Linked DNA regions of Homo sapiens. The protein of the gene in region 1 purifies or fractionates together with the protein of each later gene. This does not show direct contact. Each region holds a gene or a part of one and is shown on either strand. Other genes may lie near its edges. The genes, in order: LCP2, ICOS and HAVCR2.

The links.
Region 2: the proteins of LCP2 (region 1) and ICOS purify together in Homo sapiens (co-immunoprecipitation; one study listed by IntAct). This does not show direct contact.
Region 3: the proteins of LCP2 (region 1) and HAVCR2 purify together in Homo sapiens (co-immunoprecipitation; one study listed by IntAct). This does not show direct contact.

The regions. Positions count from the first base shown.
Region 1 is NC_000005.10:170,287,764-170,291,415, reverse strand, and holds part of LCP2 (lymphocyte cytosolic protein 2), read left to right. Parts: intron 1-3,399; coding exon 3,400-3,446; intron 3,447-3,652. UniProt on the Homo sapiens protein: Adapter protein primarily involved in signaling pathways within T-cells, as well as other immune cells such as platelets, mast cells, and natural killer (NK) cells.
Region 2 is NC_000002.12:203,939,730-203,943,381, reverse strand, and holds part of ICOS (inducible T-cell costimulator precursor), read right to left. Parts: exon of another isoform or gene 2,948-3,652; coding exon of another isoform or gene 2,887-2,947; intron 2,866-2,886; exon of another isoform or gene 2,624-2,865; intron 1-2,623. UniProt on the Homo sapiens protein: Stimulatory receptor expressed in activated or antigen-experienced T-cells that plays an important role in the immune response.
Region 3 is NC_000005.10:157,102,530-157,106,181, reverse strand, and holds part of HAVCR2 (hepatitis A virus cellular receptor 2 precursor), read left to right. Parts: intron 1-1,432; coding exon 1,433-1,516; intron 1,517-3,652. UniProt on the Homo sapiens protein: Cell surface receptor implicated in modulating innate and adaptive immune responses. Generally accepted to have an inhibiting function.

The DNA.
Region 1 (3,652 bases):
GATGTAAAGGCAGCTTCTGCTGAAACCCACCCTCCACCCCTAGTGCACTGGGTACAATTTGGGACGCTTGATCTAAGCTCTAATTACTAATCTATCACCCTTTCCAGCTCTGTAATATCCAGGGCCACTCTGCTATTGAAGGCAAAAGTGAAAGGCCCTAGTTATTTTTCCTTCCTTCCTTCCTTCCTTTCTTCCTTCCTTCCTTCCTTCCTTCCTGCCTTCTTTCCTTCCTTTCTTCCTTCCTCCCTTCCCTTGTCCTCCCCTCTCCCCTTCCCTTGTCCTCCCCTCTCCCCTTCCCTCTTTTCCCTTCCCTTTCCTTCCCTGTCTTCTTTCTTCTCCCTCTCTTTCTTTTCTTCCTTCCTTCCCTCTCTCCATCTCTCTTTCTTTCTCTCTTTCTTTCTCTCTTTCTTTCTCTCTTTCTTTCTTTCTTTCTTTCTTTCTTTCTTTCTTTCTTTCTTTCTTTTCTTTCTTTCTTTCTTCTTTCTCTCTCTTCTTTCTTTACTTCTTTGCCATTTTTGTTTTCCACTGAAAAGGTTAGATCCTTATCTGGTAGAAGCTATGCTTCTAGAAGTTATAAAAAGAAGAGAAAAGGAGCTTGAGACTTGTGTCAGTTGGGAAGGCATGTGACCCCATGTTGCAGAAACCTGACCACAGTGGCCTAACCAAATAAAGGTCAGTCTGTTTCAAGTAATAAATGTATAGGCGGGTGCCAGGGGATGGTGAAAGAAGACATCAAGAACCCAGGCTTCATCTAACCGATGGAAAAAGCCTGTGGCTTCTGTCCTAACAGTTGTCAGTTGGCTACTCCACCTTTAGGCATCATATCTCCATGGCAGGCAGGGAGACGGGGAGAAAGGCAAAGAGGAGAAGGTGTATGGTGAATGGTAAATGCATGCTCCCTTTTTTCCAGGGAAGTAGTAACTTTTCCAGAAGCTCCATCCAGCAGACTTTGGTTATATCTTACTGTCCACAACAGAGTCATGTGACCTCCACCATCTGCAAGGGAGCCTGGAGAGTTAAATATTTTGAACAAGCACATTTACTGCCCTGAATGAAACCCAGGACCTGTCAGTAGGAAAACAAAGGGAGAGTGGGTATTGGGTAGGCAAGCAGCCATGTCTGCCACATTGCCTCTCCCACCAGGGCCCAGTTTGTGGCTTTCCTCTTTCTGTACCCCTCTTCTCAACACCCACAGCATATAATCATACTCCCACAAAGCCATAAATCTTAACTCCAAAATCATCATGCAAATAACCCAGAGTTTACTGGAGGCTTTTGGAAAAGGTGGAGGAGGGGGTTACATCACATAGCAAAACTCTCCAAAAATTCTGTTTCAACATCTCTCATCTTTCCTCACAGTTCTTGTCCCCGTTCTGAATGTCTTCCTCTTTCCTGACACCCTGCTCCTCTGTGTCTCCAGCCAGGCTCATGTCCACCTCCTCCTCCACAATCTTCCTGAAATTCCCTCAGCTTACGCCCTCGTCTCAGCAGAGCAGAAGCTGGTGGCCAGCTGCTCAGTGCTCAGCCGCCACCCCTCTGGCAGCCCTTAGGAAGGCTTCAACTCCTCACACCACACTCAAAACATGAGTCTTGGTACCTCCCTGAGTGGGAGTAGTTCAGAAGCAGGGAGATGCTGCTCAGTGATGAAAAAAAAAAAGAGAAAGAAAAGAAAAGAAAAGACAGGAAAGGAAAGGAAAGGAAAGAAAGAAAGAAGGAAAGAAAGAAAGAAAGAGAGAGAGAGAGAAAGAAAGAAAGAAAGAAAGAAAGAAAGAAAGAAAGAAAGAAAGAAAGAAAGAAAAAGAAAGAAAGAAAGAAAGAAAGAAAAGGAGTAGTTAAGAAGCTTAACCAAAAGCCCGATGCCCTCAGGACTTCTGGCTGACTCCCTTCACCAGCCCCACCCTGCCGCAGGTGGTCTGATCAGCGTCCAGATCAGAAACCATGCCTGTGAGCTGGATCAGATGGATCCAGTGAACACATTGCTAAGATGCCCTAGCCCCAGCCTCTGTGCCAGCTGATCTCAAAGAAGAGTGCCCAGATCTTTCCAGTGGTCAGAAAACCTGACAGGCAGCTCCCAGAACGGAAAAGAAGCAAAAACACTAAACTCTAAGACTCACCCAGACCCCTGCTGCTTCCCCACCAGGGGTAGTAATTCCTCATCTTACTCCTCCATTTCTCAGTCACACACTGTGCCAGGCACTGTGCCAAAACACATTACATACATCATCTCACTCAGTCCTCACAATCCTGATAGGTGGGTATCATTATTATTATTATGGTCCCCATTTTACAGATAAGGAAACTGAGGCTCAGAGAGGCAAAGTGCATGCCCTAAATGACACAGCTGCTAAGTGAATGAACCAAAATTCAAACCCAGCCCATCTGATTCCAGAGCTCCCACCCTAACTACCCAGCCCTCTGGCCTTAACTAGAATGGTGGTGGAGCCCTTTGTTGGCTCATCATTGGTTCTATGGAAAGCATGCCCAGTCTCTTTTCTGCTCCCAATTCTGACATGCTCTCCTCTCCTCCTCCCTTCCAGATGCCTCCTTTCACCTTTCCCCCCATAATCCTCTCCAACATAGGCCACAGGGGCCGTCAAAAGGATCAGACGTGGTAGGATGGAGGTTTGCAGGAAGAAAATAGACTGTGGATGTCACAGAGTGGAATTCCAGCCCCAGCTCATCCCCCACAAGTGGAAATCCCCTTGATATCCCTGAGCCTCGGCTTTCTCTCTTTCAAAATGGGAATGCTGGTAACTCCTGCATCACAGAGTTGATGTGAGGATTCACTAAAGCATTAAGAGGTGGAGGCCCAGAGTTAGTTCTTGACAAATATGAGTTTCTTTCTCCCCTCCCTTCTCAGTTCCCTCAAGAAAGCCTTTTCATGGCATCCCCATATCTTGAGAATTCTACCAACAACCCTGGTGAAAGAGGTTCTCTGGGATGTGATGTTGGTAAAAGAGGCACAGACTCCTCCAGGCTGGCTTCTCTGCAGCTGACCTTGTGGAGACTGAGAGGGCCTGAGGTCTGGGGTGTAGGGAAGAGGTCCTAACATGGCCAAATGCAGCCCACACAACGAGTCGTTTGGTTTCACAGATTTAGCTCTCACAGTGTTTAAGTCAAAATTATTTGCCAACATTTGGAACTCAGAGCATTTCACATAAAACCCAGACTTAAGGATTCCCTTTGTAAAAGCAGATCCAGCAACAGCAGGCCCACAGGCTTTTAGGCAAAACATCTAGAGGCTGCCTACTTGGGGAGGGTGGGTGGGCAGGGCGGTTTCTCCTCTGTTTGCCACAGTCCCCACCACTCCCTATATTGTTTCACGTATCACTCTTCCCCTCCTGCTCAGAGCCCTTTCTGTGGGTTGTAACCTGCCTGCCATATGTGTCTTCATTTCAGAACCTGACAGAAAATGACATCCAGAAGTTCCCCAAGCTCCGGGTGCCGTAAGTACTCCTCCAACTCTATGGGTGATCTGGGAGCAGAGGTGGGAATGGGGAGTAGTGTGAGTGGGGGCTGGGTCAGTTCTATGTCATTGTCGGCTTGAAATAAGAAAGCAAGTAGGAAGGATGAGGGCAAGGGCAGGATGTGGGGAACAGAAGTTACATGAAGAGCTGGAAAACAGAAGTCACAGATCCAGCCCAGCTGGTGA
Region 2 (3,652 bases), on another chromosome or scaffold:
ATAGGAAAAGGGGAAAGTATGATATCAAGGGAACACTCCATGGGACAAAAAAAAAATCTGAAGAACAGCCTTCAGCCCTAGACCTCCCCTCTGACAGCACCTACCCAAATGAGAAGGAACCAGAAAACCAACTCTGGTAATATGACAAAACAAGGCTCTTCAACACCCCCAAAAAATCACACTAGTTCACCAGCAATGGATCCAAACCAAGAAGAAATTCTTCATCTACCTGAAAAAGAATTCAGGAGGTTAGTTATTAAGCTAATCGGGGAGGGACCAGAGAAAGGTGAAGCCCAATGCAAGGAAATGCAAAAAATGATACAAGAAGTGAAGGCAGAAATATTCAAGGAAATAGATAGCTTAAAGAAAAAACAATAAAAATTTCAGGAAACTTTGGACACAATTTTAGAAAGGTGAAATGCTCTGGAAAGTCTCAGCAATAGAATTGAACAACTAGAAGAAAGAAATTCAGAGCTTGAAGACAAGGTCTTCGAATTAACCCAGTCCAACAAAAACAAAGAAAAAAGAATAAGATAATTTGACACCAGGGTACACACACTTACTTAATCTCTTCACCTAATAATCTAGTCCAATCCTCTCATTGTACAGAAACTAAAGCATCAGAGCTAAAGAGATTTGCTACGAAATAAAAAAACAAAAAGAAGCTTTTAACATTAAGCTAGATATGAAAATGAATTTCAGGTATTTATTTTCCTTCTAGGTATATTGGATATATTATCACCTTAATACTTAAAGTAGTATTCACATTGGTGCCACATATGTGTTCTGTGATTGAAAGGGTTATTATATATCAAAAAATTATTTTAAAGTGACTTAGATATGAAATTACATTGTACATAACACACTCATTTCCCTAGACATTTTCATTCATCAGCCATCATGTATTAAGCTGGGCTGTCATTGTACCTGGGTTCTTCTCTGATGAAGTCTAAATTCTTAATGATTTTCCCATCACTTATCTGCCTGTAGAAATGTACAGAAATGGATTCACATATAGAAGTAAATTTCATCATAATTAAATAAGTGCAAATAGGCACATCTATGAGATTTTTGCATTAGTCCTAGATAGTGCAAAGTAAACAGAACTTTAACTGTGAGTGCAGTAGACAGCTTGTTGTTGTTATTGTTGTTTTTGCATGTACAGATTCTTTGTTGCAAAGTCCTAGAAGAACACAAATACAGGCTGTAAAAAAAATCTATTTATCAAATTCAAAAAAGTTACCTTTAAATGATCATTAATTGCTTATTGAAAGTGCTGTGTCTGTGTCAACATGACTCAAATAAACAGATCCTAACAACACTCGTGGTCAACTGGATGGAAACTCCTGGTCTATCACCCTATTTGGGGACAACGTGTTTCTTTTTTTTCCTCAAGCAAAGTAGATACAAGCATCATTATGTTATACATGAACCAGAAGGAAGTTCATATCCCCAGTTTCTGACTCTCTAAACTTGCAAATCTTTACCTGTTTTGGTCAACCTTACAGGCCAAACTATTGAAAAAAAAAATCATTTCTTGACTAACACTTTCAATTTGTGTGACATATCCCCTACATACTTAAGTTCCACTTTCCAAAATATAATTGTGAATTTTTATAAGGTTTCAAATGCCATGTTTTTTTCACTTTGAATGACCAAAAAGTGCCATTTGACAGACCTAGTTTATTAGAACAGCAGTAGTACTGAGATGCCATTTACAGAGAAATTGTGATCTTTTCTTCAGTTATTGCAAGCTACAAATGATTTTAAAACTCATTTTTAAAAATTTGCAAAGCCCAGTAAGTCATTTTGCATATAAAACTCAATATTCTTAGAGTAGGGAAGCAGTATATGTTGTAGATTTTGCTGTTTACAACTGTGAATACTGGGATGAATTTTTTTAAGCCAAATAATGCTATGAATCTTACAGTGAGTAAATATAAGAATTTCAGTCCCCCCTACATGCCTGCATTTTGTTTCTACCAAGAAATGGGAATATGCTACTAGTAACTTAAAACTGAAATATCCATTTCATCTGAAGGAGTTGTGGTTAACAAGCAACAGCAAGTTGTGAAAGCCATTTTGTTCACAAATGATGAAAAAATAAGGGACTCAAGATCTTACATAAGAATAAGAGACATTTCTAGAAAGAGTGGGGAAAAACAGCATAAGGTATGATTAAACAAATACTAGGAAAAAAATGACTGAAATGAAGAATAAAGCTTGAGTCTAGAGATTGAAAACTTTCACCCAGTCTTAAAAAAAATAATAATAAATTAATAGAACAGCGGGGCGCGGTGGCTCACGCCTGTAATCCCAGCACTTTGGGAGGCGGAGGCGGAGGCGGAGGTGGGCGGATCACGAGGTCAGGAAATTGAGACCATCCTGGCTAACACGGTGAAACCCCGTCTCTACGAAAAATACAAAAAAATTAGCCAGGCGTGGTGGCGGGTGCCTGTAGTCTCACCTACTTGGGAGGCTGAGGCAGGAGAATCGCTTCAACCCGGGAGGTGGAGGTTGCAGTAAGCCGAGATTGCGCCACTGCACTCCAGCCTGGGCGACAGAGTGAGACTCCGCCTCAAAAAAAAAATTAATAGAAACACACAGAAAGAGAAACAGAGGGAGAGAGTTACACATATCCTGGAGGAATTCCTGAATTCCAATACTGAAGTAAATAGCTTTCAAGATTATGAAATTCTAGAGTTTTTTTTTTTTTTACAAAGGAATGAGAGTTAGACTACCATCAAACTCTTCACCCACAACCCTAGAAGCCAGCAGACAGTGGAGGAATATCTGCAACCACTAAGAAGAAAGGCTGCCATCCAGGACTCCTATTCCCAGGAAAGATATCAGTCACTCATCAAGGTAAAAGGAAGACACCCTTACCTGTACTGGAATTCAGAGAGTTGGGGGTATTTAACGAAAATAAGAGAAGTCTTCTGATCATTAGATTAGAACAGAGATCACAAGACAGGAGCAGATGTCCAGAATGATGTTGTCATTGAACGTATGTGATGTAAGTGTTAAGAAAGGATTCTTGAAACAGAAGAGAAATACTGTAAGAGGAAACCTAGCAATGATCTGCAACTGTAAGTTTTAAATTATTTCCACAAAACCCACGTATGGAGCAGGGTGCACTGTCTGGGGGAAGTGTGAGAGTGGGAAAGGAAGAACATTCTTAAGTTCTCATATCAGTGCAGGGGATGGGGACTAGGCACATCAGACAAAGGCATTTTCATTATTTTCATACAATGATAAACAAGTAGACATTCAATTAAGATTCTTTGAACATGTCAATTACTTAGTAAATTAAGAACTGTAGTCGACCTTCCAAATTAACCGGAGGCAAAGAGGAGAGTCAAAAGAAATTTCATCACACCAACAAAAATAAAAGAGAAAAAGAGGATACAACAAAGAAAAATAAGTAGTAAATAAACATAGAAATAAAATCAAGTAGAGGCTTATGCTGACTGGGAATGGCCTGAATTCATCTATCAAAAGAAAAAATTGACAACTGGGATTTTTGTTAAATCTAACAAGAACACTCTGGAAGGGGGTGCTGTCAGGAGATGACATTTACTCAGTCGTGGAGAGGCTAAGAGGGGCTCCAAGGTCAGTCATCTTCACAGACTTCTCTCAGACGCTGGAGACA
Region 3 (3,652 bases), about 13 Mb from region 1:
TCCAGCCTGGCTGACAAGGGTGAAACTCTGTCTCAAAAAAAAAAAAAGAAAAGAAAAGAAAAGCCAAAACTCATGGGTGGAATGTATAGATGGGATGAAAGGCCTAGATCAGTGGTTAGAGACCCTGACTCTCATTAGAATCACATAGAGAGTTTTTAAACAACTATAGATGCCAGGTACAGTGGCTCATGCCTATAATCCCAATACTTTGAGAGGCTGAAGCAGGAGGATCACTTGAGGTCAGGAGTTTGAGACCAGCCTGGCTGATATACTGTGGCTACCCCTATCTCTTAAAAAGCAGAAGAAAAAACCCCACTACCAAAAACCAGAGAAATCAGCATCTCTGGAGGTAGATGCTAAGCATTAGCTTTTTACAGAGTCTACCTCAGGTGATTTTACCCCAGGTGCAGCCAGCATGGTGAACTGCTGGGTTATGCATGTATGCTGGGAGGTGAACAGACTTAAGATTTCTATAACATGTACTTTGTGCCCAGATAGAGCTGAGTTTACATCTAACTCTGCCTCTTACTAGCTATATAATCCTGAGCAAGTTATTGAAACGCTGTGAGCTCCTCTTCTATAAAATATGACAATAATACCGATCATGTGGGCCATTAGAAGGATTTTATGTGATAATATTTTATTAAAAGCCTTTATAGGTTGGGCATCCCAAATCTGAAAATCTAAAACCTAAAATGCACCAAAATCTGAAATGCTCTAAAATCCAAAACTTTTTGGACACTGACATGACATTCAAAGGAAAAGCTCATTGGAACATAAGTATAGGCAGATACTAAAAAATAAAAAAATAAAAACATGGCTGGGCGTGGTGGCTCATGCCTATAATCCCAGCACTTTGGGAGGCTGAGGTGGGTGGATCACCTGAGGTCGGGAGTTCGAGACCAGTCTGACCAACATGGAGAAACCCTGTCTCTACTAAAAATACAAAATTAGCCAGGTGTGGTTGCACATGCCTGTAGTCCCAGCTACTCAGGAGTCTGAGGCAGGAGAATTGCTTGAACCCAGGAGGCGGAGGTTGCAGTGAGCCGAGATTATGCCATTGCACTCCAGCCTGGGCAACAAGAGCAAAACTCCGTTTCAAAAAAAAAAAAAAAATTCAAAATCTAAAACATTTCTGATCTCAAGCATTTCAGATAAGGAGTCTTCAACCTGTAATTATGGCCATTTGTGTGGCTGTTAGTTCCGCTATTAATAATCAGAATGTAACAATGATGACTGCATCTTACCTTTGTCAAACATTTGAAGTGTGTGATACACTCTCAACGTAGGTATCCAGGCAGGTTTGGAAGCTGAGGGTGTATTTCTCTTTCTTAATTGTCTTTCGCATTTTTTTCTTGCTGCCCCTTTGATTCCCTGAAATAAGCTTTCTGCTCTCAGATAATTTTCATCCTTATGTTGTTTCTGACATTAGCCAAGGTCACCCCTGCACCGACTCGGCAGAGAGACTTCACTGCAGCCTTTCCAAGGATGCTTACCACCAGGGGACATGGCCCAGGTAACTATGCATGGGGCAGAGGAGGGAATCTTTAGCTGGCTCTGAATTCAGAGGATTTTGAATGTGGGAAAAAAAGATGAGAAAACAGTGTGAGAGTGGAGGCATGGATATCTCCGTGCACCTGAAATAGTGTTTGAAAAGAGGGAAGTGGTGGAGACACACCTGTGCTGGGAAAAAGATGGTCTGGCTTAGGATTATTTTACTTAAATTTTAACTGGAAAAAAGTTAATAAACTTTATAGTCTTTAATTTTACTTAAATATTAACTAAATTGAATGAAATGCTCATTACTTTGTCCACATTTTCTGACTGACCCTGGACTGGTGATGTTTGGTCATGAACTGGTGTCAGTCTGTGTTTGGGAACTGACACATTGGATTAGGTGATTTCTAGGATGCCTTCTAGCTAGAATAAAGCCCATCACCTTCCCTGGATTCCAGCCACAGAAAGAATAGTTAAATTCTTCATGTAATTCAGCAAGGACGTACTCAGGGTGCTCCAGAAGAGAACACTGGGCATAAAGCAGAAGTCAAGTCACATTGATCATGAAGGTTAATTTTAAGGTATTTCTTGTCAGTGTCCTGGTCTCTTCTAAACTCTCTGGAGCTCCATTTTTTTTTTCTTCTGTAAAATGAGGTTAATAGGTGAGTCCCACCTCATAATGTCATAAATCTCATAAATCACACCTTATGGGCTTTAAATAAGAAAATGTCTAAAACGTTTATCCCAATGTCTGACCACAATTTGTACATGTTAGCTGTTGTCGTTAATATTATAAGATCAGGAGGCACAGTGAGATTGTGGTTAAAGTACTTCAGTGACAGGTGGAATGGGTTCTAATTTCAGCTGTTCTTGATAGCTCTGTGACCTCAGTCAAGTTGCTCAAATTCTCTGAAGCTCAGTTTGCTCATCTCTACAATGAGGATAATTCCAGTGCCCATGTCATGAGGTGGTTGTAATGTATAAACATGATAATGTATGTAAAATGCTCAGCATAGTACCTGGCCCATAAAAAGCACTCAACTGTTTATTATTACTATAGTTACTGGTTTTAGCTCTCCAAAGTTTCAGTCTTTGGTTAGTCTTTAGTGATTGGTAGCCAACATCTTTTATGCAATTAGAGAGGAAACTAAATATGGTGGGGACAGAAAATAATAAAGTTATACCAGATACTTATTGTATGCCATTGTTATATTTTAAAGAATCTTACAACCATAGTGCTAGAAGGGACTTCAAGGGTCATTTAGTCTCACTTTCCCATCCTGTGCTTCAGTACTTTTTTTTTTTTTTTTAATTGAGACGGAGTCTTGCTCTGTCACCCAGACTAGAGTGCAGTGGCGCAATCTCGGCTCACTGCAAGTTCCGCCTCCTGGGTTCACGCCATTCTCCTGCCTCAGCCTCCCAAGTAGCTGGGACTACAGGCGCCCACCATCAAGCCCAGCTAATTTTTTTCTTTTTTGTATTTTTAGTAGAGACAGAGTTTCACCGTGTTAGCCAGGATGGTCTCCATCTCCTGACCTTGTGATCCTCCCGCCTCGGCCTCCCAAAGTGCTGGGATTACACGCGTGAGCCACCGCGCCCGGCCAGTACTTTTTACTACATCACCACTGAATGGGCATTTGCTGTAGACGGAGTTCACTCCCTGTCGAGGTGGTGCATTTCCTTATACTTGTCTCTACCACAGACAGAAGTCTTCTTTCCTTTAGTTTTTCTTTCCTTTTTTTTTTTTTTTGAGACGGAGTCTCACTCTCTCACCCAGGCTGGAGTGCAATGACACGATCTTGGCTCACTGCAAACTCTGCCTCCCAGGTTCATGCCATTCTCCTGCCTCAGCCTCCCAAGTAGCTGGGATTACAGACGCGCGCCACCACGCCCCGCTAATTTTTGTATTTTTATTAGAGACGGGGTTTCACCATGGTGGCCATGCTGGTCTCGAACTCCTAACCTCAGGTGATCCCTCTGCCTCGGCCTCCCAAAGCGCTGGGATTACAGGTGTAAGCCACCACGCCCAGCCTTCCCTTTAGTTTTTGTTTGTTAGTTCCTTCCCTCTAGGGCAACAAAAATGGGAATATAGGAATAATACCTCGAACCTCTGAGCTTCTCAAGGGCCTGACTGAGAAAAAATATTGAAACAACC